2 linked regions of the Homo sapiens genome follow. The protein of the gene in region 2 purifies or fractionates together with the protein of the main gene of each other region. This does not show direct contact. Each region holds a gene or a part of one and is shown on either strand. Other genes may lie near its edges.

Region 1 (3,747 bases), on a different chromosome or scaffold from region 2:
AAAGAGACACTTCTACTTTTCTATCTAGAAAATAACATTTTAAAAAATGAAAATATTTTACAGGAAATAACATTTGTACATACTCATAACAGTCTCAAAGAGAAAACGATTCCTCTACCCACAGAACGCTTCTGAAATCACATGTGTGTAAGCCTTTCCCTCCACACCAACCAGCTCTCCAACTCCCTCTCAGACACCAACGCGATGTCCTACAATTTAACTCGATTCTGTCACCAATTGCCCGGAGCTAGTGCAGAACCCACAGGGTAAGGGGTCAGTCCCACAAGACCACCCCGACTTCAGATGCCAAGTGCAGACGGTGGGCCCCGGGGACCCCACGACCCCCTTCTCAGGTTCCAATTTTTTTTTTGAGATGGGTCTCTCTGTCGCCCAGGCTAAAGTACAGTGCCCAGATCTCCGCTCACTGCAACCTCCGCCTCCCAGGTTCAAGTGATTCTCCTGCCCCAGGCTCCCAAGTAGCTGAGATTACAGGCGCACGCCACCACGCCCAATTAATTTTTTGTATTTTTAGTCGAGATGGGGGTTTTGCCATGTTGGCCAGGATGGTCTTGATCTCTTGACCGTGTGATCCGCCCGCCTCGGCCTCCCAAAGTGCTAGGATTACAGGCGGGAGCCACCGCACCCGGCCAAGTTCCATAATTTTCTAAGCACACAGAAGTCGGGACCATATGAACCGGCTGTGAAAAGGCGTTGAAATACATGGATGAACCACCGACCCGCAAGGTACGGGGGAGGACGCGAGGCTTCCATGCCCTGTCTGGGCGCCCCCTTCCTAACTGCCCCCCCACCCCGCCTTCACCAACCCGAAGCCCGAGGCCCTCATCTCATGCAGGGTTTTGATGGAGGCCTGGTTGCGGAGGAATGACCGATTCAATCACCGGCCACTGCCCCGCAGCAGCTGACCGTGGGAGGCGGGGAGTCTCAGAGGCGGGCGGCCGGCCCGGGACAGACCCCTGAGACCTCCCCGCCTCTGGGAATCGCCTCCCGCGGGCAGCGCTCGCCTTCCCCGAGCCCTGTCTCTCCTGATTGCTCCCAAGCCAAGGCGGATGCAGGCCTGGCGAGGCTTTCGCAACCCGAGAACCAGGCGCGCAGCCGGCTGTTACTTCCTCACCGCGCACGGGGCGGACAGGAGCCTCCCCCGGCCTCGGCCTCGCGCCCACCAGGCCGCCGGCATCTCTTCCGCCGCAGCCCCGGCTCACTCGGCGCCATGCACCCGCCGGTGCTGGATGAGGTGGAAGCTCAGGCGGAAGGCGCGGCCGCACTCGGTGCAGCGGAACGGCTTCTCGCCCGTGTGGAGTCGCTGGTGCCGGAAGAAGCCCGACAGCGCCCGGAACGCGCGCCCGCAGTGGCCGCACTGGTGGGGCTTCTCCCCGGTGTGGATGCGGCGGTGCTCGCGGAGGAAGGAGCTGCGGCTGAAGGCGCGGCCGCAGTCCTGGCAGGCGAAGGGCCGCTCCCCCGTGTGCACGCGCTGGTGCTGGAGGAGGTTGGAGCTCTGGCTGAAGGCCTGGCCGCACTCCCGGCACTCGTACGGGTTCTCCCCGTGGTGGGTCCGCCGGTGCCGGACCACGTTCGAGCTGTGCAGGAAGCGCTTCCCGCACTCGCCGCACGCGTACAGCCTCTCCCCGGTGTGGGTGCGGCGGTGCTTGGCGGCGTCCGACCTCTGGCCGAAGGCCTTGCCGCAGTCGGCGCACGCGTAGGGCTTCTCGCCCGTGTGCACGCGCTGGTGCCGGAGGAGGTTGAAGCTCTGGCCGAAGGCCTTGCCGCACTCGGCGCACGCGTAGGGCCTCTCCCCGCTGTGCGCCCGCTGGTGCCGGACCACGTGCGAGCTGTGGATGAAGGCCTTCCCGCAGTCGCTGCACTCGTACGGTTTCTCCCCCGAGTGGATGCTCCGGTGCTTTGCCGCGTCCGAGGAGCACTTGAAGCTGCGGCCACAGGCGCCGCACGGGAAAGGCCGCCCCTTCCAGCTGCCCCCGCCCTCTGCGCCGGGGCCTGCGTTCGGAGGGACGTCTGACTCGAGGCCACTCTGTCCTCCAGTTTTCTCAGAAGTGACCGGGCCTCGAGGGGAACCTCCGGGCCTCTCTCTGGCTTCCTGGTTTTCACAAAGGCCAAGAGACCCCAACGCCCGGGGAGGCCCCCCTCTGTGGCCCTCTCCCTCGGGAGCGCCTGCCTCTGCGGCAGGCTCCGTGCTCTGAGCTGCCTGCACCTCGGCTGACCGGCTGCCACTCGGGGCCTGCGCCAGGAAAGCAGCCTTCACAGCTGAAAAAGAGGCCAGACAGGAACGATTTTAGATGTAAGAGAACGTGAGTCGAGGGTGGCTCTGGCAATCGTGGTGACGACAGAGTGACAGTGATGGTGACGTCAGTGTGCCACAGACACCTTTGATTTTGCCCATTCAGTTCCCGCCTCGTTTTTTTTAGTTTTTTTCTCCTCCCCACCTTCTTAACCCCCATGGTTATGAGGTAGACGAGAATCCTGCACTGCCACTCCAGAAACGGGGCTGTGGGGCCGGATGTGGTGACTCACACCTGTATCTCCGCACTTTCAGAGGCTGAGGCAGGAGGACCACTTGAGACTTGGAGTTCAAGACCAGCCTGGCCAACATAGTGAGATCCTGTCTCTTAAAAAAATAGAATTTTAAAAATATACAAACAGAAACGAGGCTAAACGGGGCTAGAAACAGGGCTAAACCTCTAGCCTCGGCCCACCCAGTCCTGGGAGGGGAGGGGACAGAAACGCAGGCTCTGGGCACTGCCTTACTCTGCGGGACAGCTGGGAAAGCAAAGGAGGCTGGAGACAGCTGGCAGCAAGCCAGGACGGGAGCGAGGCAGATGTAGCAGGAGGCCCGGGGACAGTGGCACCCAACAGAGCCCACGGCCCAGCTCTGCCTTCTGTCTGTCCTTCCTTCCTTTCTTGTGAGCCAGGGTCTTGCTCTATCACCCAGGCTGGAGTGCAGTGGTACCATCATGGCTCACTGCAGCCTCAGGGCTCAAGTGATCCTCCCTCCGCCTCCCAAGTAGGTGGCGCACCTCCAGGTGAGCACCACCACACCAGGCTATTTTAAAAATTTTTTGTAGAGACAGTGTGTCAATGTGTTGCCCAGGCTGGTCTTGAACTCCTGGGCTCAACCCTCCTCCCACCTGAGCCTCCTAAAGTGCTGGGATTACAGGTGTGAGCCACCACACCCAGCCATGGCCCCAGCTCATTCCTTTTACCTTGGACTCCCTGAGACAACGCAGACTCCTTAACAACTGCCCCCAAACACCAAACTCTAAGGGCTTCTGTTATGTGCAAACAGGAGCGTCCTCACTCAGACAGAAATCCGGACCAAGAGGCCAGTCGCGGTGGCTCACGCCTGTAATCCCAGCACTTTGGGAGGCTGAGGTGGGCAGTTCACGAGGTCAAGAGATCAAGATTAGGTGAAACCCTATCTCTAATAAAAATACAAAAATTAGCTGGGTGTGGTGGTGCACACCTGTAGTCCCAGCTACTTGAGAGGCTGAGGCAGAAGAATCACTTGAATCCAGGAGGTGGAGATTGCAGTGAGCTGGCGCCACTGCACTCCAGCCTGGCGACAGAGCAAGACTTTGTCTTAAAAAAAAAAAAAAGAAAAGAAAAGAAATCCGGAACAAGAGCTGGAAGCAGCAACCCACGTCCCATGTGGGCTGGGCGGCGGCGGCGCTGGTCAGGCTGAGCAACCCCATCCAGGCTGCGTTATCAATGGCCCTT
Region 2 (3,747 bases):
TCCCAAGGTGAAAGGCATTCAGGAGCAGATCAATTGCTTCCATTGGTTTTCCTATCTGGAGGAGATGCTGCAACAAGCAATGAGCTCCAAGACCCCTTTATTGAGACCCTTGGACCCAACAGCGTCCTTCTGGGAAATAATCAGAGAAGCTGACAGGAAGCCTCTTTATGGCGCGTTTTTTTTTTTTTTTTTGAGACGGAATCTCGCTCTGTCACTCAGGCTGGAGTGCAGTGGCGCGAACTTGGCTCACTGCAACCTCCGCCTCCCGGGTTCAAGCAATTCTTCTGCCTCAGCCTCCTGAGTAGCTGGGATTACAGGCACCCGCCACCACACCCACCTAATTTTTGTATTTTTAGTAGAGACGGGGTTTCACCATGTTGGTCATGGCTGGTCTCGAACCCCTGACCTCGTGATCCACCCACCTCGGCCTCCCAAAGTACTGAGATTACAGCGGTGAGCCACCGTGCCCGGCCCTATGGCAGCATTATTTATACTGGTGAAACACTGCAAACCTCTTAAATAAGGGACAACAGACAAATAGTTATTTCAATTACAGCAACCACATATGTAACTGCTAAAAAAAAATTTTTTTTCTTTTTGTTTTTTTGAGACAGTCTTGCTCTGTCGCTAGGCTGGAGTGCAGTGGTGTGATCTCGGCTCACTGCAACCTCCACCTGCTGGGTTCATGCAATTCTCCTGCCTCGGCCTCCTGAGTAGCCGGGATTACAGGCATGTACCACTACACCAGCTAGTTTTTGTGTTTTTAGTAGAGACAGGGTTTCACCATGTTGGCCAGGCTGGTCTTGAACTCCTGACCTCAAGTGATCCACCCGCCTCGGCCTCCCAAAGTGCTGGGATTACAGGCGTGAGCCACCAAGCCTAGCGAAAAAAAAAATTATGTTGCAAGGAATTGTTAGTGATGCCTACAACATAAAGTTAGATGGGAAAAATAATAAAAGCTACAGATAAGATATAATCCCAGTTTTATAAAGCATACATATATGCTGCATGCTTAACATACATACACACACATACACACACTCACAAACACAGACACACCCAGGGAAAAGGGCAGGAAAAAAAACTTCATTTTAGTAACAAATATCTCCGGGTGGGGACTTCCAGAGAATGCTTATTTTCATCTTTCTCCTCTTACTTTCCAAATGTTCTACAATGAACTATCTCTTGCTTTTCTATTCAGGGGGAGAAATATTACTTTTACGAAGTTAAAACTCCAAAAAGGCTTTTGTCGCTCTGGAAAGATTGACAAGAAACTGGTCACAGTGACTGTTTCTGGGGAAGGTAACAGATTTTGTCCGTAGAAATGTTTTAAAAATCACAAGCAAATAATACATTCACAAACTAATTATTGAGTTTAGCGTCCCTCATCTTTTAAATGTCATTTTCCCAAGGAGCCTCCCCTGGCCAACCCTCCCAACTCTGGGTTCCATGCCCCTCTGTGGGCCCTGGCACCTTGCCCTTCCCAGTGAAGGTCCCCATGACAATGGAGCTGTTCTTGTCCTGTTACTTGTCTTCCTTCCTCATATTCAGAAACTCCCTAATGGGGCTGGGTGCGGTGGCTCACGCCTGTAATCCTAACACTTTGGGAGTCCGAGGTGGGTGGATCACCTGAGGTCAGGAGTTCGAGACCACCCTGGCCAACATGGCAAAACCCTGTCTCTACTAAAAATACAAAAATTAGCTGGGTGTGGTGGCACCCGCCTGTAATCCCAGCTACTGAGGAGGCTGAGGCAGGAGAATCATTTGAACCCAGGAGGTGGAGGCTGCAGTGAGCTGAGACCATGCTACTTCACTCCAGCCTGGGCAAAAGAGTGAAACTTCGTCTCAAAAAAAAAAAAAAAAAAAACTCCCTAACAGGGACCAACTGTGGCTCCCATAACCCCAGTCCCTAGCTCAGTTCCTGCCCCTAAGAAGTGCTCAATAAATAATTGTAAAATAACAGAAGTGACACATTTCTTTTGTTCTCATGTCTCTCTGCCCACTCTCAAACATCAGAGCCTATCTTGGCTCAGCTTAGCCTTGCAATACACTGGAGACCATCCTGGCAGGAGGGGGAGGAGATATAATTCCCGCTGTCCCCCTCCCCCTCCCCCACCACTCCCAGGCGTCTCACCTGTACACCTGATGCCAACAGCTGTCTCCGTCATCGAGAAGCCCACGGGGCACACTCGGGCCACCTCCTGACAGCCTCCATGGTTGCAGGTAAGGTCACAGCCGTACTCCCCACATGGTCCATGGGTTTCTAGAGCAGGCATCACACCAGTGAGCATGCACCCCGTGGCAGTCCCAACCATCCCCACTTCACCAGGGTCCTCCTGAATTCTGTTGGGAGGGTAGCTCTGAAGGCAAACAGGCCTGGGTTTAAATCCAGCTCTGCCATTTACCAGCTGTGTGACCCCGGGCAAGACAATAACTTCTGTGTCTCAGTTTCTTCATCTATAAAATGGGCACAAAATGTCTACCTAATGGAGTTGTCTGAAGCTGAGACACCAGGACACATCTCAAGTGCCCACTGCCCAGGACATAACCTCAATGCTCATTCATCTGTTCCCATCAGCCCCTTCCCATCCCCAGTTACCTGGGCAGGTGGCCCCTTGCTCTCCATCCTGGCAGGAGCAGACATTGGGAGCGATGCAGATGCCACTCCCACAGCCGAAGGAGCAGAGGGCTGAGAGGAGAAGTGCAGGTGAGACACGAGGAACTGGGGCCTCCCGTCTGCCCCTCGGACCAGGGACTGAGGGCTGGCAACACACACTGCTGGAGGAGAAGACTTGGGGCACAGGGACAAGCACTTACGCAGGGTGCAGTGCCCACCACCCATAGAGGGCGCCCAGCCAGGGCAGCAGCCACTCCCAAACCCAGAGAGGCAGACGTGGGGGCCCAGTCGGCGTCTGCAAGAGAAGAGAGAGCACTTTCCTCATTCTATACTGGGGGAGACATTGGTCAACAGGAAAGTCTCCCAGCCAGTGTGTAAGTGAATCAACAAACAATTCTCAAGAACTGTCTGGAGGGGCAATGGGAAGTTTCCAAAGAAAAATGACCCAAACAGTCTTCTCCTGGAGGCAAGACAGAGACAAAAGTGTGAGACAATAGATACTGGCCTCCTACAGATATCTGCCACGTGAACACACAGCAGAGTGGCCAGGAGAGGGGCCTCAGAGTTGAAGAAAGGCTGTGCAATAGATGAGGAGCCCCAGGGGTGGCTGCCTCAGGACCTTTGCACTTGCAGTTCCTGCTATAAGAAAGGTTCTTATGGCTGGGTGTGGTGGCTCACGCCTGTAATCCCAGCACTTTGGGAAGCCGAAGCAGGCTGATCATTTTGAGCCCAGGAGTTTGAGACCAGCCTGGGCAACATGGTGAAACCTCGTTTCTACTAAAAACACAAAAACTAGCTGGGCATGGTGACACACACCTGTAGGGTCAGCTACTCGGGAGGCTGAGGTGGGAGAATGGCTTGAGCCTGTGAGGCAGAGGTTGCAGCGAGCCAAGTTGGCGCCACTGCCCTTCAGCCTAAGTGACAGAGCCAGACCGTCTCAAAACAAAAAAAAAAAAAAGAGAGAGAGAAAGATTCTTCCTCAGACACACACTGGGCTTCCTCTCTCCCTTCACCCAGATCTCTGCCCATGGCACCTTCTCAGAGAGGCCTTCCTTGTCCACCCTTACCTTGCTTTATTCTCCACAACATTTACTTCCTGTGACATTAGATTTTAATTTATTAATTCATTG

What was found. Proteins that work in one complex are often made in the same cells at the same time.
Region 1: the proteins of VWCE (region 2) and ZNF696 purify together in Homo sapiens (co-immunoprecipitation; 3 studies listed by BioGRID and IntAct, with this or other methods). This does not show direct contact.

Annotation. Positions count from the first base shown.
Region 1 is NC_000008.11:143,294,270-143,298,016, reverse strand, and holds part of ZNF696 (zinc finger protein 696), read right to left. Parts: intron 2,278-3,747; coding exon 1,217-2,277; 3' UTR 1-1,216.
Region 2 is NC_000011.10:61,288,665-61,292,411, forward strand, and holds part of VWCE (von Willebrand factor C and EGF domain-containing protein precursor), read right to left. Parts: intron 2,913-3,747; coding exon 2,818-2,912; intron 2,690-2,817; coding exon 2,600-2,689; intron 2,264-2,599; coding exon 2,135-2,263; intron 1-2,134.